5 linked regions of the Homo sapiens genome follow. The protein of the gene in region 3 purifies or fractionates together with the protein of the main gene of each other region. This does not show direct contact. Each region holds a gene or a part of one and is shown on either strand. Other genes may lie near its edges. The genes, in order: PEAK1, PRAG1, PEAK3, ASAP1 and ASAP2.

The links.
Region 1: the proteins of PEAK3 (region 3) and PEAK1 purify together in Homo sapiens (affinity purification with western blotting; one study listed by BioGRID). This does not show direct contact.
Region 2: the proteins of PEAK3 (region 3) and PRAG1 purify together in Homo sapiens (affinity purification with western blotting, with the first as the bait; one study listed by BioGRID). This does not show direct contact.
Region 4: the proteins of PEAK3 (region 3) and ASAP1 purify together in Homo sapiens (affinity purification with western blotting; one study listed by BioGRID). This does not show direct contact.
Region 5: the proteins of PEAK3 (region 3) and ASAP2 purify together in Homo sapiens (affinity purification with mass spectrometry, with the first as the bait; one study listed by BioGRID). This does not show direct contact.

The regions. Positions count from the first base shown.
Region 1 is NC_000015.10:77,413,381-77,417,412, forward strand, and holds part of PEAK1 (inactive tyrosine-protein kinase PEAK1), read right to left. Parts: intron 1-4,032. UniProt on the Homo sapiens protein: Probable catalytically inactive kinase. Scaffolding protein that regulates the cytoskeleton to control cell spreading and migration by modulating focal adhesion dynamics. Acts as a scaffold for mediating EGFR signaling.
Region 2 is NC_000008.11:8,376,258-8,380,289, forward strand, and holds part of PRAG1 (inactive tyrosine-protein kinase PRAG1), read right to left. Parts: intron 1,822-4,032; coding exon 1-1,821. UniProt on the Homo sapiens protein: Catalytically inactive protein kinase that acts as a scaffold protein. Functions as an effector of the small GTPase RND2, which stimulates RhoA activity and inhibits NGF-induced neurite outgrowth.
Region 3 is NC_000019.10:2,276,335-2,279,388, forward strand, and holds part of PEAK3 (protein PEAK3), read right to left. Parts: intron 2,780-3,054; coding exon 2,250-2,779; intron 156-2,249; coding exon 1-155.
Region 4 is NC_000008.11:130,051,516-130,056,118, forward strand, and holds the end of ASAP1 (arf-GAP with SH3 domain, ANK repeat and PH domain-containing protein 1), read right to left. Parts: intron 3,291-4,603; coding exon 3,216-3,290; 3' UTR 589-3,215; downstream 1-588. UniProt on the Homo sapiens protein: Possesses phosphatidylinositol 4,5-bisphosphate-dependent GTPase-activating protein activity for ARF1 (ADP ribosylation factor 1) and ARF5 and a lesser activity towards ARF6.
Region 5 is NC_000002.12:9,352,908-9,356,939, forward strand, and holds part of ASAP2 (arf-GAP with SH3 domain, ANK repeat and PH domain-containing protein 2), read left to right. Parts: intron 1-3,139; coding exon 3,140-3,188; intron 3,189-3,271; coding exon 3,272-3,438; intron 3,439-4,032. UniProt on the Homo sapiens protein: Activates the small GTPases ARF1, ARF5 and ARF6. Regulates the formation of post-Golgi vesicles and modulates constitutive secretion. Modulates phagocytosis mediated by Fc gamma receptor and ARF6. Modulates PXN recruitment to focal contacts and cell migration.

The sequences.
Region 1 (4,032 bases), on a different chromosome or scaffold from region 3:
GCAGAAACCACCGTAACAGAGTGCTCACAAGTGATAAATTATTTGATATCATGCACCTCCTGTATGAAATAATAGGGGCACTTCACCTTTGCAGTACTCTCCCCCAAAATCCATAACCCCAATCTAATCATGAGAAAACATCAGACAAACCTAAACTGAAGAACATTCTACAAAATACTTGTGTCAAGGTTATAAAAGATAAGAAAAGACCAAGAAACTGCCACACATTGGGAGAGACAAAGAAGACAACTAAAGCAATGCAATATCAAGGTTTGGATAACAGAATGGAAAAAGAATACTAGAAAAACTGGTAAAATATTAAAGCAGTTTGAAGCTTGGTTGAAGCATCGTACCAATACTAATTTCTTAGCTTGATAAATGCACCATGGTTATGTAGGATGTTAACATTAGAGGAACCCAGGTGAAGAGTATATAGCAGCAGTTTTTCTGTTTGTTTCTTTGAGACAGGGTCTTACTCTGTTGCCCAGACTGGGGTGCAGTGGTGCAATCATGGCTCACTACAGCCTCTACCATCCAGGCTCAAGTGATCCTCTGACCTCAGCCTCCTAAGTAGCTAGGCCCACAGGCACATGCCACCACACCCGGCTAATTTATTATAGTTTTTAGAGATGAGGCCTCCCTATGTCGCCTAGGCTGGTCTTAAACTCCTGGGCTCAGACGATCTTCCCACTTCAGCCTCCCATAGTACTGGGATTACAGGAATAAGCCACCACACCCAGCCTGCATTTTCTTTCTTTTCTTTCTTTCCTTCCTTCCTTCTTTCTCTTTCCTTCCTTTCCTTCTGTCTTTCCTTCCTTCTTTCCTTCTTTTTTTTTTTTTTTTTTTTGAGACAGGGTCTTGCTCTGTCACCCAGGCTGGAGTGCAGTGGCACAATCACAGTTCACTGCAGATTGAACCTCCCAGGCTCAAGTGATCCTCCCACCTCAGCCTCCTGAGTAGGTGGGACTACAGGTGTGCACCACCATGCCTAGCTAATTTTTTGTATTTTTTTTTTTTTTTTGTAAGCGACGGGGTTTCACCATTTTGCCCAGGCTGATCTTAATGTCCTGACCTCAACCCACCTTGGCCTCCCAAAGTGCTGGGACTACAGGTATGACCCACTATGCCAGGCCCAATTACTGTATTTTCTATCTTATCCTCTGACTTGAAACGAACATGGTTTGGACAAGAAAGAATGGGCTTTGAATCCTGGTTCCATCACTTGACAGGGTGTGTCTGAATATGTTATTTAACCTTTCTAATCCTCAGTTTCTTCATCTGAAGGAGAACAAAGGAAATAATATAAGGTAAATAACAAAATTGTTGAGTTAGTGTTAGGATCAGAATTAGGTATTAAAGTGTCTAGCACATAGGAGGTACTCCACAAATAGAAGCTAGTATTATTTGCTCTTCATTTGCTCTACAGCTTCACACTGACTTCTAGCATTTCATGCTCCTCATTTTCTCCCAACTGGATCACCTCCTTACAGGCTTCCAGCTCATAATCCAGGAGGACTCCATAGTTCTTCAGTAGAGCTACAATACTCAATATCATTAATTCCCTCAACCAACTGTCCTTCAGATATCTCTACCAAACAGATATCTACAAAGCAGCAGATAACAGCCTGGGCAGAATTTAAACCCAAGCTGTTCATCTTACAAACAAGGAGAGTAACAGTAACAATACATAACTCATAAGGTTCTTGAGAGTATTAAATAGTTTCTTCAGATAGTCTGATCACTCACTGCTGGAGAAAAATCAACCACGAAAATTGGTACTGCTACAAATGTGAGGTCTACAATCTGAAATAAACAGGTCCTCAATGCTAACTAACAATCCTTCTTCAGTTTCCTAGTCATGTAACTAACAATCCTTCTTCAGTTTCCTAGTCATGTGTCTGTTTACCTCTCTCTCCCTTACCTCCACCCCATCCACTGTTAGCCATTCCCTTGGAAGCCGTTTACAAAGAGTATGTATAAACTACAGACTATCTTTTTTTCCATTCCTTTCACAGGGGTGGATTAATTTTACCTGGCTTTTTTGTTTGTGTGTGTGTTTTTTAAGAGATAGGGTCTCATTATGTTGCCCAGGCTGGCCTTCAACTTCTGGGTTCAAGCGATCCTCCTGCCCCAGCCTACTGAGTAGATGGGACTACAGGCACATGCCACAGCACTTGGCCTCACATACATTGTTTAAAAACTCCTATTCTACCACGTTCCCTTCACTCTTAGCAGATGATCAAAAATTACACAAGACATGTCATCAACTCTTCCTTCCTGCCCTGTCAGTTACAAACTTATTTACATTGCCATCCATCTCCTTCCTTTCTGCTCACTGGAAAAGTGAGACTACCTTCTACTTAAGACCAACTTCTCTGCCTACGCCCTGGATCCCATTCCTTATTACCTTCAAATCCTTGTCTCCATCCACCAGCCAGTCTCCCACGCCCACCAAACACACACATATACACTCTTCTTCAGTTTCTCCTCTCCAGTGGCTCTTTCCAGGCTCACATTAAGAATGTCCAAGATTCTCTAAATCCCAAGTATCTCCCCCTGCTTAAAGACTCCTTCAGAGTCCTTTGTTGAAAACATTGTACCCCTCTCAATTAGCTACACTTACAGTTGTCATTCACTTTTCAACACCCACCCCCATGCATTACAATGTAGCTAAGTGCTCTAGCTGAAGTTATAAAAGACATCCTAATCACCAAGTCTCAGAGACTTCATTAGGTCTTTATCTTACTTTTCCTTTTGGAGGCAGGATACAGTGTTGACCACTCCTAGCCCTTGAAATAATATTCTCCCTCAGCTTCCATGACAAATCTCTATTTCCTTTTTTCATCTTTGGTCTGTCTGGCACAGATGGTTGGCTTCTCTTCAGCTGCTTGCCCAATCTACTCAGCGGATCACAACAGAAATGTAGGAATCATCCAAAATCTTCAATCTTGCTCAATTCTATAATCTAAATAGATTTATCCTGTCCCGTTAATAATACTTCCTAAATCTCTCATAGAGCCACTCCCTCTTCTACACTCTTCATCATTTCTCACCAGGAATAGCTTCCTAACTGGTCCTTGCTTCCAGTTTTGTCCCTCTCTAATTCAATATTCACTTCACTGTCAAAATGACAGGTCTAAAATACAAATCTGATTCTACCACAGCATAATTTTTTTTCCCCACTAAATCCCCGCAACTTTTGGAATTAAGTTAAAGTTATTAACTTGGTTCACAAGACAATCATTGATTTGGCTTATTACTTCATCCACCCCTGTTCTAAAGCTGTGCTGCTGCTGTCCACTCACCTGCAGCTATTGAGTATGTGAATGTAGTTGTCCAAATTGAGATGTGCTATAAGTGTAAATTACACACCAGATTCTGAAAACAGTAGAAAATTATGCACCAGATTCTGAAGACAGTATGAAAATGGAAATGTCATATTTCAATATTACTTTTTATACTGAATGCATGTTGAAATGATATTTTGGATATACTGAGTTTATATTATTAAAATTAATTTCACTTTTTACTTTTTAAAATTTGGTTACTAGAAAATTTTAAATTGTATATGTAACATATTTGTGGCTTGTATTAAATTTTATAGGACAGCACTGGTATAAGATGTACTTTCCCTCTTTCTGGACCTAGTTAACTCTTACCTATTATTGAAGATTAGCTCAGGTAACACTCTAAGATGCATTCTAGACACCCTCCACCCATCCCCCGAAGTCTGAGTCAGCTACCCCTCCTCTGTGCTTCCATCCATAGGAATGTGTGCATGCCCCTGTCATACTATAATTATTGGTTATCACCTATCTTCTCCTCCTCAACTGTAAACTCCTTGCAAAAAGGAATCTCATATTCTATAATACTCAGGTCCTACCTACCACCATGCCTGGCACTTAAAAGGTACTCAAACATTTGTCAAACAAATGTAAACTATCTATTCCTGGCCTGAAGGTTACTAGGATTTCTACTTCACTAAGGAAAACAAACCAGCCTTGAGGGAACCTAGAAAGTACCAGGAGCTTT
Region 2 (4,032 bases), on a different chromosome or scaffold from region 3:
AGGCGGAGGAGGAGGTGAGAATGTCTCAATCCCACTTCTGTCCTTGGGGAACTCAAAGGCAAAAGAGGCGGATTTGCTCATCCCGGTCCCAACTTTGCTGTTCTGCCCAGAGGAGCCATCTGTGGGGTGGAGACGGTGCCAGGTCGTGGAGTTTGAATGGTCCGTGGGGCCATTTTTGGTCTCTCTTCCCCAGCTGTGACTCAGCAATTCCTGCTCCACCTCCTCTTCTTCCTCTATCCGGCACTGACGACTCCAGGTGCCTGCCTGGAACCTGGGCCGCCTCTGTTCCGAGGCTGACGAGGCGGCAGGCTGGGGACACCTGGATGGGTCACTGATAGCGACACCGTTGGTCCGGCAGGAAGGAGCGGGGTCAGCAGGACCTTGGGATGGAGGCTGGGGCCCAATGCTGCTGCCGCCAGAGCTCCCATCACTAAGGTCAGCCAGCGGTGACACTGGGGGCCCTCCAGCAGACGGTGACACCGGGGACCCTACAGGGCTACTCTTGGACAACTTGGGGGGAATGGCGGGCCTCTCCTTGGGCTTGCTCTCGCTGGCACTGTGAGCATGGCTTTCCCTGGAGCTCAGCCCCTGCCCAGCCGAAGTCTCCTCTTCACCTACCTCGGAGTTCTGGCTCACAGGCCCTCGTGGCCACTGCACCCCCACTGCAGAGTCAGGGCTGCTCAGGTAGATCGTCCGATGGTCCTCTTCCGGGTGGGCCGCCATGACTGTGATGGTGGCTGACACCTGGGGAGTTGGGTCTGGGCTGTCCCGGCCCCAGCCAGATGCTGCTTTCTGGGCCCAGGCATTACCTGTGCATACCTGGCCTTGGCCCTGGGCAGCAGCTGCATGTTCTATCTTGGCCTGTGACTTGGAAGGCACCGGAGCTGCCTTCTTCCTCTTGGTGCTCTCAGCATAGATGGGTTCAGGCTGTGTAGCCTCCCGGGGGTGGGCCGGGGGCTGGGGCTCCCCCGTCAGCCCAAGGCATCTGCTAGGGGTCACCCCTGGGCAGCCAGGGTCCTGCTGCTTCTCTGGGGCAGGTTCCTTCATGAGGGAGCAGTAATCACTCTCGAGGTGGGGGACGAAGGGGCTACTGGCGCCGCTGCCGCTGCCGCTGCCGCTGCCACAAGAGAGGCCGTCGGAAGAAATGGCAGCCTCCGAGGTGAGGGACAGTTTCTTGGGGCCCAGGCAGGATGGGTGGGCAGTGGGGCCCTGGCTACAGCACTCCTTGGGGAAGCTCGGGCCCCGCTTCTCCTGCTCTGCGGGCCCGGAACACTTCCCCTGCTCCCAGCACGTGGGTGAGCAGTCCCTGCCACCATGCCTGCCCCGGGAACCTGCAGTCTGGGAGGCAGCCTTGGCAACAGGGCTCCCAGGGCAGCAGTCCAGGATGGAGCAGTACTCTCCACCCTCGCTGTCCCCGGAGGGCGAGCACCTTTGATCACTGTCATCCTCCGAGGGCAGGGATTCCCGCAGGGGCCCAGGGCCCTGGTGACAGCCAGATGTGGTCCCAGCAAAGGCAGCCAGTTTCTGGCGGAAGCTCTCCTGGGTGGAGGGCCGGTCTTGGTAAGGAAATGAGGGTTTTTCTTTGTGCACAGCCTTCTCCTCCGGGAAGCTCACCGGGTGGAAGGCAATGTTCCTCTCGCCGCGGGGCTCAAGGTTGTGCAGGCCGACCATGGTGTAAGCTGGGGGACAGCGAGAATTGCCATCAGGGGAGGTAGAGGGACCAGCAGGCTTCTGTACACCTCGGAAGCTGCCCAGGTAGACGACGGGGGCATCCTCCTGCTTCGGGAGGGGGAGCTTGCCAGGGGCTCGTCTCCAGATGACCTACACACAAGCCCAACGCAAAAAGACTTATATTAGAACTTGTCATAGAAAAAAGAGAGAGAGGAAAAGTGAGAGGGAAGGGCAACGATACTGTAGAATGTCTTCTGTAGTGCAGTGCAGGGGCGCTGGGGCCGGGGACTCAGTGCACGCCCACCTTCTCATCTCCCCACGGCCCTGTGATCATTGCTGGGGCACCCGCTGAGCCATTTGTCTTCCCAGACACTGAGCTGCCCTTCCTACCCATGGACTGTAATGCTTTTGGCTTAAGTCTGTGAAGTAGGAAAAGAAAAATATAACTCTGAAAAAGAACACTGTGCCTTCTTCCTCCCTTGCAACCAGCTGCTGGGTGACACAAGTTGTTCCACTGGATTGGAAAATGGAGCTTGGGGTTTTGTTTAATTTTTGCTTTGAGTTTGTGGGTTTTTTGATAACCCAATCACAGTGCATGCCTGAAGAAATCGAAGTCTTAAGTGTTTTTAAAACACACTGAACACACTGGAGCCAGATGCCGTGGCTCATACCTGTAATCCCAGCACTATGGTGGGCCGAGGAGGGCAGATTGCTTGAGCCCAGGAGTTCAAGACGAGCCTGGGCAACATGGCCAAATCCCATCTCTACAAAAAAATACAAAAACTTGGTGGGCGTGGTGGTGTGTACCTACAGTCCCAGCTACTTGGGAGGTTGAGGTGGAAGGATGTCTTGAGCCCAGGAGGCGGAGGTTGCAGTGACCCAAATCACACCACCACACTCCAGCCTGGGCGACAATGCCAGACCCTGTACCAAAAATAATGATAATTAATAATAATAATAATAAAGAAAAAAGAAACACATTGGGTGGGTGGGTGTGGGCAGAACAGGAGGGTGAGGGGTGGTTTCTGAACCGGATCAGGGTGAGGGGTGGTTTCTGAACCAGATCAGAGTGAGGGGTAGTTTCTGAACTGGATCAGGGTGAGGGGTGGCTTCTGAACCGGATCAGAGTGAGGGGTGGTTTCTGAACTGGATCAGGGTGAGGGGTGGCTTCTGAACTGGATCAGAGTGAGGGGTGTTTTCTGAGCTGGATCAGGGTGAGGGGTGGCTTCTGAACTGGACCTGGGCTTCCTCGCTTCTTTCTGTGCTTTGCTTCCAACTATGCCAGAGGTCATCTTTCTCCCGCCTACAGCAGTGACCTCAGCCTGAGCCTGTGCGAGTGGTTGGACTCGTTGGGCTATGAGACAGAGATGTGGACTGGTCATTACCATCCCTGAAGTCACCGTTTCCTCCTCCTTCTGGTCTAAAGTCCTCCTTTACCCCCACTTTTAGAAGCAGCCTCAAAGCAGGGCCTGCCTCTGGCTTCTTTCCCAGGTGATTCTGAGCTTAAAGAGTCCCTGGCTCAGGTTGGTGAAGGTTGAAGGTATTGAGAATGGCCTGGAGAATGGGTGTAAGCAGCTTAGGAAAAAACAGAGCAGCCCGGAAGGGGACATCAAGTTCACTGCAACCAAAGGAAATGCCTCTCCTCAATGAAGACTCCCCTGATTTAGAATTGACCTTAGTTTTCATATATGCTCACACAGCCTTCCTGACCTACTCACCATATTGGTCAAGAAAACTAGAACAGGCAAAGAGGTCAAACAGGTAGCAAGCAGTTCCTAGGATATGTCTTAGCCACATAGCTTCCTAAATGTGTCTAAAGACAGCAGATGCCAGCAGACCCGGGCTATGTGCCCTCTGAGTTTGTAAAGGTTACCTGTGGAATGAGCAGAATGGTCTAGCCTCTAGGTTGTAACTGTTTTTAGTGACCCTAGAAGAAAGCTGGTAAAATCCAAGCTTCAAAATTGGAAACAGGAGTACTGGCTGGGTATTAGATAATATTAAGGAATTACTGCTAATATTCTGAAGTGTGGGGCCAGGCATGGTGGCTTATGCCTATAATCCCAGCACTATGGGAGGCTGAGGCAGATGGACCACTTGAGCCTAGGAGTTTGAGACCAGGAACTTAAGACCAGCCTGGGCAAGACAGCAAGATCCTATCTCCACCAAAAAACAAAAACAAAAACAAAAAAACGCCAAATAAGCCAAGCATGGTGGCATGTACCTCTAGTCTTAGATTCCTAGGAGGCTGAGACAGGAGGATCACTTGAGCCTGGGAGGTGGAGATTGCAGTTAGCCGAGATCGCAACACTGCACTCCAGCCTGAGCAACACTGAGACTGTCTCAAAAAAAAATAAATAAATA
Region 3 (3,054 bases):
TCGGCTGCCAGCGCCACTGCGCCTCTCCAGGGCGCCCCGGGCAGTGTGCCTTCAGGCACCAGGCCACACAGCCCCTGCAGATTGAAGTGTGGAGACAGGGAGGCCTGCAGCTCCAGGCCCCACGGGTGGGGCACGTCCGCCCCGGGCTTGGGCACCTGCAAGGCAGAGGGGGTGTCGGGGCCTGGATCACTGGGCCCCCCACAAGCACCGCCTGCCCCAGTGCTACCTGCCCCGAAGCCTCCCACGCACACCCCCAAACTGCCCCCACTACGGCTAGGGGCTGCCTGCATCCCTCCAGCAGCAGGAGGTCAGTGTTAATTTGGAAGTTAGTCACCAGTAAGGACTTTCAGGAAAGTTAAGCCAGGGAAGAAGATGTTCCTGGGCAATGAGTTCGAAAGCAGATTCCTGGGCCGGGCGCGGTGGCTCACGCCTTCCCAGCACTTTGGGAGGCAGGGGGATCGCTGAGGTCAGGAGTTCGAGACCAGCCTGGCCAACGCAGGGAACGCTCGTCTCTACTAAAAAATGCAAAACTAGCTGGGCGTGGTGGCGCGCCTGTCATCCCAGCTACTTCGGAGGCTGAGGTGAGAGAATCGCTTGAGCCCGGGAGGTGGAGGTTGCAGTGAGCCGAGAACGCGCCACTGCACTCCAGCCTGGGCAACAGAGTGAGACTCTGTCTCAAAAACAAAAAACAAAACAAAAAACACAAAAGCAGATCCCCGGCCAGAGAGGTGTGGGAGGGGTTTTGACAAGAGCTCCAAGGCCATACCCATGGCCCCATACTTTAGAAACATGGTTTCCTGGGTTAACTGCGTTGATTCACGTGTTAGTTGCAAAATAAACAAGTCTAATATGGTCTGGATCTGTGTCCCCACCAAATCTCATTCCCCAGTGTTGGAGGTGGGGTCTGGTGGGAGGCGACTTGGATCTTGGGGGTGGTTTATCATGAATGGCTCAGCACCATCTCCCTTGGCACTGTCGTTGGGATAACGAGTGAGTTCTCGTGAGATCTGGCTGTGTAAAGGTGAGTAGCACCTCCTCCCTCCCTTCCTCCTGCTCCCACCGTGTGAGATGCCTGCTCCCGCCTCGCCTTCCACTATGATTGGAAGCTTCCTGAGGCCTCCCCAGAAGCAGAAGCCACCAGAACCATGAGCCAATTAAGGCCCTTTTCTCTATAAATTACCCAGTCTCCAGTATTCCTTTTTCTTTTCTTTTCTTTTTTCTTCTCTTTTGTTTTTCTTTTTTGAGACAGAGTCTCACTCTGTCGCCCAGGCTGGAGTGCAATAGCCCAATTTTCGAATCTCAGCTCACTGCAACCTCCGCCTCCCAGGTTCAAGTGATTCTCCTGCCTTAGCCTCCAAGTAGCTGGGACTTCAGGTGCGCACCACCGCGCCCGGCTAATTTTTGTATTTTTAGTAGAGATGGGGGTTTCACTATGTTGGCCAGGCTGGTCTCGAACTCCTGACCTCATGATCTGCCCGCCTTGGCCTTCCAAAGTGCTGAGATTACAGGCGTCAGCCACTGTGCTGCCCAGCCTTTTTTTTTTTTTTTAGACGGAGTCTCGCTCTGTCGCCCAGGCTGGAGCGCAGTGGTGCGTTCTCGGCTCACCGCAAGCTCTGCCCCCTGGGTTCATGCCATTCTCCTGCTTCAGCCTCCCAAATAGCTGGGACTACAGGTGCCCACCACCACGCCCGGCTAATTTTTTGTCTTTTTAGTAGAAACAGGGTTTCACCGTGTTAGCCAGGATGGTCTGTATCTCCTGACCTCGTGATCTGCCCGCCTCGGCCTCCCAAAGTGCTGGGATTACAGGTGTGAGCCACTGTGCCCGGCCTTTTTCTTTTTTTTTTTTTTGAGACGGAGTCTCACTCTGTTGCCCAGGCTGGAGTGCAATGGCCCAATCTTGGCTTACTGCAACCTCTGCCTCCCGGGTTCAAGCAATTCTCCTGCCTCAGTCTCCCAAGTAGCTGGGTTTACAGGCGCCCGCCACCACACCTAATTTTTGTATTTTTAGTAGAGGCTGGGTTTCACCATGTTGGCCAGGCTGGTCTTGAACTCCTGACCTCAGCTGATCCGCCCGCCTTGGCCTCCCAAAGTGCTGGGATGACAGGCGTGAGCCACCGCGCCCGGCTCCAGTATTTCTTTACAGCAGTGTGAGAACTGACTCACAGAAAGGCCAAATGAAACAAGCCCTGGGTTATGTCTAAGATGGGGCACTGGGGACACCTCAGAGAGGGTGGGGCTGTGGGGCTCACCTTGGCGACCAGGATGTGCCAGGCGTCCTCGTGCGCGCGCACCACGCGGTAATACAGGGCGTCCCCGCTCTCTGCGCAGGGTGAGCTGTCTAGGAGGCGGAAGCTGTGGCCGGGGTGGCAGGGCCCGGGGTGGCCCCCCATGAGCCGGGCACGGAGCCGGGCATAGATGGTACGGAGGCCCTGCAGCTGCCGCGCAGCCAGTGCAGTGTGCACAGCCTCCGGGCTGTGCAGATCGCGGAGGGAGAGGCCCAGTGGGGCGTCAGCCGGGCCAAAGGTCAGCTCTGCAGGGAGACAGGCTGGTCCCACTGCAGCCTGGCTCTTGTCCACACTGTGGGACCCCAGAAAGGGTCTCCGAGGCGGCTGTACTTGGATGGAGCTGGGATGGAGGGTCCTGCGGGTGGGCAGTGACTGGGTCCGGGTTAGGATCTTCTTGGGCAGGGGTGGGGGCAGGGGCTCTGGGTTGGTGGAGAGGGACCCAGGGGTCCGGAGGCGGCAGGCCTTGGAGGGCAGCAGGTGGGCACGGATCTGACCTGCAGGGAGAGACAGTGGGGGAGGGTTGAGGACAGGCGGAGTGGGAACGGGACACGTGACTCCACCTCTCAGCCTCGGTTTCCCCATCTCTAACATGGAAGTAATGAGGCTGGGCGCCGGTGGCTCATGCTTGTAATCCCAGCACTTAGGAAGGTGGAAGCCGAGGCAGGAGGATCACTGGAACCTAGGGTTTGAGACCAGCCTGGGCAACATAGTGAGACCCTGTCTCTGCAAAAATTTTTTAAAAATTTGCCGGACGCGGCCATGCACAATG
Region 4 (4,603 bases), on a different chromosome or scaffold from region 3:
GTTCTCCATAAAGGAGAGTGTCTTCCAGGCAGTGGGAATTGCAAGGATGGCCTTGGAGCCAGAACCACCTGTGTGCACTCCCACCTTAGTGATTTACAAGCCACATGTCTCCTGTGTGTGAATGAATGCCTCTGAGCCTCATTTGTCAGCTCTGTAAAGCTGAGGGGCTCACGCTTCTCCTGGGCTTGCTAAGGATTCAGGGGTTAATGCAGGCAGAGTGCCTGGGCCAGGTCTGCTCCACTGCGTGGCAGCACTAGTTGTGACAGCTACGTGACAGAAGTGCTGTCCACACGACAACATGTAAGCCTCGTGCCCCTCCACCCTCTTCTTGCCCTGTTCACATCAACGGGCGCACAAGTGGACGTGGTGGAGGTGGAATGCGGAAGGTGGAGGACAGAAAGGGGCCGAAGGCCCACAGTTTGTAAGCCGGGGCAAGTGCCACATATTTTTATGTATCCAGAGTGATCTCTGACAAGGGTTGGAGTGACCTGTGTCATCTATATACCCGAAAGCACAGCCAGAGGAAGCCTTGATTCTCTCCTGTCAGCAGGGTAGTGAACAACTCACAAAATGGCCTGATTTCAGAAGTTTGGGATCAACTGAGAATATGTTTATTTAAAAGCAATTTTAAATATTAAAAAAAGTAGAAATTAACACATACAGTACTGAAAAACTGTCACATTAAACACATGTGAAATGACAAGTGTACTGATGTTTGATGGTAACATCCAGATGAGAATTCGGCATTTAACTAGTGGCACTACAGGATTCCTATACAACATGTTGAAGTTCTAGGCAATAAAAAAATAAATAGCAATTGCTGTTCAACAGTAAAATAAGACACACACTATTTGCAGAACATAACTTTCCCCTCTGGGGGAAAAAGAACTAATTTGCTATTTTTTTTTCATAAGGTTCCATATCTTCAAAATACTATATAATGTACAAAATTGCAGATAGTGGCTTACTGAGTTTAAGATCAAGATCAGACTTAAACTCAACAAGATCACCAAAGGTATTTCTACTGAGTTTTCCTATGTCCCACAGTAAGCTGGGTTAGAGAGAACTCAAATTCCTGATGGAAAACAAAACCGAACAAAAAAACTAGAAAAAAAAGGTGTTAAAAATGCTGTGTAAGTTGCTGCAAAAGGGGAAAAAGAATAGACACTAACTCCATGTAATTTTAGACATGCAGCTTTTGTGTTTTTTTTTTGTTTTTGTTTTTTTTTTTTTTTTGAAAAAAACCAGTTTATTTTGAGATCAGTGAAAAGAGTCTAGGCCACAGAAAAGAACAGCTCTTTAATGCAAGTTAAAATGTGTAAATGAATGACCGGGACACTGAGCAACCTCAGATGCAGACTTCCATCCGGACACTGGTGTGGCTTCAGTACCGAGGCTGCTAAAGCTGCCAGTCACAACCCAGCATGTCAACTGGTTCCTCATGCTCTGTTTGGTGTGGAAATTCACATGTGCCCTGACACTGAGGAAGCAATTGCTTAAAATCACTTTCCAATAACAGCTGATAAAATATTTTGCAGGTTTGTCATGCAAGGTTTATTTATTAGGTGGCTATTCAAAGTTTGTATAGCAACCACTTAAGCAGAACTAAATTAATATTCACTGAGCACTGTAACGATGGAAGAGGGCTTTTCCTAAGGGTTGGGTTGGGAGTTGTGCTTCTGTGAAATTAACATCTCTCACTCATTGCCAAGATTCTCTGCTTAAAAATATTAGTTTTCTGTGCTGTTGCCAAAATAGCAATTTAAGCAAATGTAGTGCCAGAATGACACATGAGCCTCGGACTCAGGGAACAGTTCCACTGACTGTGGAGTACAACTATTGCATTCTTTTCCAAAATTCAGACTGATGTAAAAGACTGAAATACAATGTTCTTAAGGATCTGATAAACATGGCTGGGATGAAAAGAAAACTGAGAGGGAAGAGTGCTTTTCACAGTGCAATTCATAGCAGCGTTCAAAAACTTGGTTATGAATTGACTTGAAGGTGGACAGAGCTTAAGACTGGAAAAATTATCTATAATTGGGGTTTAACAAAGAGCATGGGAAAAGAAACACTTGGTTTCAGCACCTGGATTCTACATACAGTAGGGAAACTGTGTGAAGGGTTGACTTTTAAATTCATCTTGAATAATCTTTTAAAAGTTTAAATTTGTCCAAGAACAAAACTAAGAAAATAATAAAAAATGGATGCAATGGATGCTTCAACACATCTGAGAGATGTGCATTCATAACACAATATGTCAATCCATACTCTTGAGAAAGCCAGTGATTAGAAACAAATATTGTTGCAACCTTATAATTTCTGCTTTAATGGCAATCAAGTTTAAAAAATGTACAATTCCACTTATCCATACTATTCCTTTATAAAAGGCAGATTTCAGGTAAGCTTCTAAATGCATGCGTAATGTAGAGGCTAATATTTTCTGGCAGTCCTTGGTTCCTGAAATTTGAACTTCATATGTGTTTTAAACTTTTGTCAAAATAGTCATGAAAGATATGTTATTTTTGCATAATGAGGTAATATATCAGGGGCGGGCACTCATAAGACAGTATAAATCCACTTGTCTAAACTTGCATGAGGCTGTGTGCATTGTAAAATGCCATAAAGAGTTTTGGGTCAGTGAATATTTTGCTGAAGGAATAACACTTACATTTAACTGAGCACTTTTCTGTAATAAATACCAAAGTAGGTTTTTGTAGCTGTAAACTGTGTACACAGATAACTACAGGCTGGTCTGTCATGGAGCTAAAAGTTTCACCTGGAAAACAGAACCCACCTCTTTGCTAATGTTGCATTTTCAGTAACACAATTGAGAATACTGCATTGTTAGGAACAGAGTCAATTCTATGCCTTTCAACGGTTGCTGGAGACCACTTCTATTTGCAAAGCCAGCAGTTCCTATACTCCTATTTTTGTTTGTTTGCTTGTAGAACAGCATAGAGAGATGTAAGTGCTAGATGCCAAGGATGGCTTTGGCAAACCAGTAAGGCGCGCCGGGTCCGAGGCTACCCTCATACTGGTGAAGGCAGAAAACCACAGGATATTTACAACACACATTATATCCCCCTCCTGAGGTGGCCCTTCCATGAGTTTCTTACTCTGTAACAGCAGCTATATACACACTGTGCCCAGGGTTACATGAAGGCAGCAGTCTTGCATGAAGGATGTGGACAATCTTAAGGTTCTGCGTTTTGCTAGTCAGACAGGATATGAACAAAGGACACTGGAAAGACCCCCTTCCTTTCAGGCTGTCCTTCGATGTGGCCAATCTGCAGGGAGAAAAGAGAGTGGTCAGGATGGAGGCAGCAGGCAGTGGCCCCACGACAAACCCAGTGGGTAAGAGCCCAGCCTAGTCTGCCCACAGACCTGGCGGTGGAATCCCAGGCTTACCCTTCTTCCCACCCTTTAGTGAACTACAGAGAGCTTAACGGTCATAAACTACATAAGGAAAGAGCAAACGACAGAACTTCCAATATGCTCAGCATTCTACATGGATCTTGCTGTACCCACACAGCAACCCCCTGAGGTGGATATTTCTTATACAGTTTACAATCTTCATTTTACAGATGAAGGGACAGTGGCCCAGAGAGGTGACATGCTCTCCCACAGGCGTGGGGCTCTAGAGTCCTTGCTCTGAACCAGGGCGCCTGGCTGCCTTTACAGCTGGGTGACCTCACACAAACCTTGCTAAGCCTTTTCTCTGTTAAGTGGGGCTAAAGAAAATCCCTTCTCTCCAGGCTTGTGTGATACATTTAAAAAAGAAAAAAAAAAAAAAAAGCAAATGAAAAGGCTGCTATGGCACCTGGCCAATCCCAGTACTATTACCTATTCCTAGTTGGGAAGGAAGGGGTTTCTTTGCCCACAGCCCAGGTAGGATGCATACAGACCATTAAGCTGTGTCAGCTGCCTGGCAAGACCCACTGCGGGGTACCATACTCAAATCAAAGCTAATCTTGTTCTGTCTCTTCTCTTTGTGAGTAAAGTGTTGTTCTAGCCAGTAAAAAAAAAAAAAAAAGGCTGCTATGTACTATCACTTGTTTTCTGGTTACCGTGGAGGAAGAATACTGTGAAAGTTTGAGACTGATGGTGGCGAATGGCAATTTTATTGTCTGCTGCATTGGCCTGTAAGCCAGTTACCTGTAAAAATTTTCTAATTACCTCAATTAGATTAGTATTGATTGCACTAAAGAGAATCATGTAATGGGCCTTCAATAGAAAAAACAAAATCGTGCATATTGGCTTCCAATGCCAAATCGATAGAGAGGAAGGTGGTTTTAAGAGTGGAACAGAGTCAACCAGGCCTGCCCAGCTCTCCTGAAGGCTTGCCCACCCACCGCGTGTGGTCTTAGTTGGCATCATGCATGTGTGAGGTCTTTGTGAATTTCACATCACAGTTAGCATGTGTGTGTGGCACCATCTTTACATCTGGCGAGGCACGTAATGGTGGCACACACAATGTCCCCTAGGAATGATGCTAGGGACACCAATGACAGCTTCCCATTCCCCGCAGGTATCTCTGCTGTAGTCATCAGTTGCTTAGCAAAGAACATGATCACTGCTTGATTATAATAATATTAACAGA
Region 5 (4,032 bases), on a different chromosome or scaffold from region 3:
TCCTTCCCTGCTTGTCTTCCAGTGGGTAAAATGAATTCCAGTCCTGCAAATTCTTCATCCTCAGTGAGTTTTCAAAAGGTGCCTTCCTATGAGTATCTGTAGTGAAAATGGTTTGTGCAGGGGTATGTGGGTTTGGGTTGAAAACTGGCCAGATACCCCAGAGAGTCATCACAGGAAACCTGGCTGCAGTATAAGCCGTGATTTGATGAACATCCTGAGAAGGTGAGGGACATGGGGTCAAGACCTGATTCTGGCTGATTGAGGAGCATCTGTCTTCACCCCTCTCAGATTCCTCCTCTACTTCCTCACCAGCCTCATGGGATGAGTATCACCAAGATGCTTTTGAACTCTCAAGATGCTTTTGAACTGCCTGGGTGGGCCAGGCAGTGGCTCATGCCTGTAATGCAAGCACTTTGGGAGGCCAAGGTGGGAGGATTGCTTGAGGTCAGGAGTTCGAGACCAGACTGGGCAACATAGCAAGACCTACAAAAAATTTAAAAATAGTGCAGTATGGTGACATGTGCCTTTGGTCCCAGCTACTCAGGGAGCTGAGATGGGAGGATCGCTTGAGTTCAGGAGGTTGAGGTTGCAGTGAGTTGTGTTCGTGCCATTGCACTCCAGCTTGGACAACACAGCAAGACTGTCTAAAAAAAAAAAAAGACATTTGGGCAGTTGGGGAAGTCAAGTGGAGGCACATGCATTGAGGCAGTGAGGGTGATATTTTCTGTGTGCATCTGCCAGGCACTCCATGGTCACCCATTCCTCCTCTTCCTCATCTGGTCAGTTCATCTTGGAATCTGCCCAGAGAACTCAGAAGAGCAATAGACTGGCTGGCTGGTTGCAGTTACTTCCTACAAGATGTTCCTTTACCATCCTTGCTCCTAAACAGGGGCTTCCCATTCTCATGAAGGTGGAATTGGGGCCAGGGGCAGTGGCTCACACCTATAGTCCAAGCTACTTGGGAGGCTGAGGTGGGGGGATCACTTGAGTCCAGGAGTTTGAGGCTGCAGTGAGCTGTGATTGTGCCACTGCACTGTAGCCTGGGTAATAGAGGGAGACCTTGTCTCTTTAAAAAAAGAAAAAGATGTAAATGAGCATGGGCTTTTCTAGGAGGATGGTTCTGTGGCAAGGCCGGCCCTTCTGGGAGCTCATCTAATCCATTGCCTGCAGACCGACCCCACTCATAGCAAATTCAAGTCCTGAGCCATTATCCGCGAACCCCATAGGCACCCTGGGAGGGATGGAAGGAACAGTAGAATTGTGAGGTGACCCAAGTGAGTCCCCTGAGTAGGATGGAGCCAGAGGGAGTCAATGACCTTCCAGGTCCACATGGCAGGTTAGCGGCCAGTAGAGCCAGAGCCCTGGCCACAAGCTGCCCTTCACTGGCCACCAGCACCTGAGTGCTCCGATCGCCCCCTCTGTCTCCTCCTGCTCTTCTCCCTCACGGCTGAAGCTCTGGAAGCCGTCCGCTTATTTGTAGCATCTTTAAAGAGAGTGTAGTGGAGGGGATTCTTGCTTGAAGTTTTTCCTCAGAGGTTTGCCTCCTGCTTGTGCAGTTTTTACACGTCAGAATGCAGAAATTGGCCAGGTGCGGTGGCCCACGCCTGTCATCTCAGTACTTTGGGAGGCTGAGGTGGGAAGATCGCTTGAGCCTGGGAGATTGAGGCTGCAGCGAGCTGTGCACTGCACGTTTGCACCACTCCACTCCAACCTGGGCAGCAGAGTGAGACTCCGTCTCAAAAAAAAAAAAAAAAGAAAAAGAAAAAGATGCCATGGTGTTGTAGAAAGTGGTCGGGCCAGAAGTCCAGGAACCAAGTTCTGCTGCTGGCTATGCTTGTTTTTTGCAGCTTAGCCTCTCTAGGCTTCAGCCCTCACCCAGTCACTTACCAAGAGTTGTTCTAAGAACCAACGTGCTTTCAGGAGTAAACACCACTACAGAGAGGTGGCGTGTCCACTCACTTTTAGGAGCACAGATGTTCGTTGTGTTTCCCTAAGAAGAGAATTGGTACTTGTCATCATTCTGCCATCTGCAAAAGCTGGATTCCCCTGCCCCTGCTTTTCTTTATTAAATATAATTTTATTTTTTGCTTTGGTTTTAGACTGCTTTTAGACAGAGAATATCCATATATCCCTCCCCTAGCTTTCCCTTCTGTTAACATCTTAATACAGTTATCCAGTAGTCCGTGGTACATGTTATCCAATCATATTTATGTAGTTATCAAAACCAGGAAACATTGGTTTGATGCTATTAACTAAAAATCTTACTCAGATTTTACCAGTTTTCCCCCAAATGTCCTTTTTTCTGTTCCAGAATTCTATCCAGAACCCCATGTTACATTTAGTTGTGATTTTATCCTGGTCTCTTGCAGTCTGTATCGGTTCTGTAGTCTCACTTGTTTTTCATGATGCCTTCTTAAAGAGTATTGACCTGTTTTTTGGTCAGACTCCCCTTAATTTGGATTTCTCTAGTGTTTTCTCATGAGTGGATTGAGGTTATATGTTTTTGGCAAGAGCAGCACAGAATGATGCTGCCACATCCCACACAGCCGCCTCCCTGCTGCACACACACACAGGTCCACAGCCTGGCAAAACACTTGTAAAACTGTGCTGACACCAGCAGTATGTAAGTGTAGGATTTTATATTCGACCATTATTTAACACACTCCTCTTGATTTAGCTACATTTCTAGTATTTGATTCTCAAAGCATATTATTCTTAGAATTTCTCATACTAATCTTTTTCTGAGAAAGCCAGAAAACTTCTAAGATATTCTTTTTAAAAAAGGTTTTTATTATTCAAAGGGCTTGAACAATTACTTTTTGGGGGCCAACTCTGTAGTGAGTTAAAATGAAGCTATTGAGAGGATAGTGATGGTTTTCATTGAATAGCTTCAGTTTTTAGAAGCGGCGTCTTTTAAAACTTGAATGAGGGAAAGGGCAGGTTTATTTTGCATTAGAATGCCACCGTTGGTGAAGGCAGACATTTGGAGGATATGAGGGAGTGCCTGATTTTATACAAATCAGTAATTTCGTAACAGAGAGCTAAGATTATTCCAGAGGCTAATTAGAAACTATTTTCTTTTGGAATTGTGTATGGATTGCTGTCTGGGCTCACAGTTGAAATTCCTCTTGCTATGCAGATGACAGAACTTACCACTTTCAAGCTGAAGATGAACAGGAATGTCAAATGTAAGTTACATGGTGGTGGGACTTTGGGCTGGACTCAGCCGTTGTTTGTGGAATTTAACACAGCGTTGCTCTTGTTTTTCTAGATGGATGTCTGTGCTGCAAAATAGCAAAGAAGAAGCTTTAAACAATGCATTTAAGGGGGATGACAATACTGGAGAAAATAACATCGTCCAAGAACTGACAAAGGAGATCATCTCAGAAGTGCAGAGGATGACGGGCAATGACGTCTGCTGTGACTGTGGGGCGCCAGGTGACCCAGGGACCCCACCCGACCCTGGGCTCTAGGACATTTCAATCCCATTCTGATTCACAGAATCCGTTCATTGATTTTCACTTTCATTTCAAACACGAAATTAAGTGCAGCTCAGCCTGAGTTCATCCCATTACACAAATGCTTAATGAACTGTGCAGACCGCGGCAGGGGAGAGGGGCGGGAAGATGTTTGCCTGCCGGGCCCCAGAGCAGGACTGAGTAAAGAGGGTTTGACAGAGCTGCAAAGTTTGAAATGCTTTTTGAGAAATGAAAACTGAAGGGTACAGTGAGAGTGAACTCAAGGTCATGTGGGCTGAGAGGCTGCATGTGGATGGGCTTCCTTGCTTGGAATCTGCTCTCTTCTCCCTTTATCCTACTTTGCAGAACTTCTGAAGTAGCTTTAAGCCGCTGTCTGGCTCTGTGACCCTGGGAGAGCCACTTGCTTTGTTAAACATCGATTTTCCTGTCTGTAAAGTGAAGGGACAGGACCCTTTCAGCTGACACATTCTGTGAAATAAGATTTTATTTTTACATTTTGATAAAGCATATTAGGGGCTTTATAGTAGGATGTGATTTAAGGAATTTGCTTATT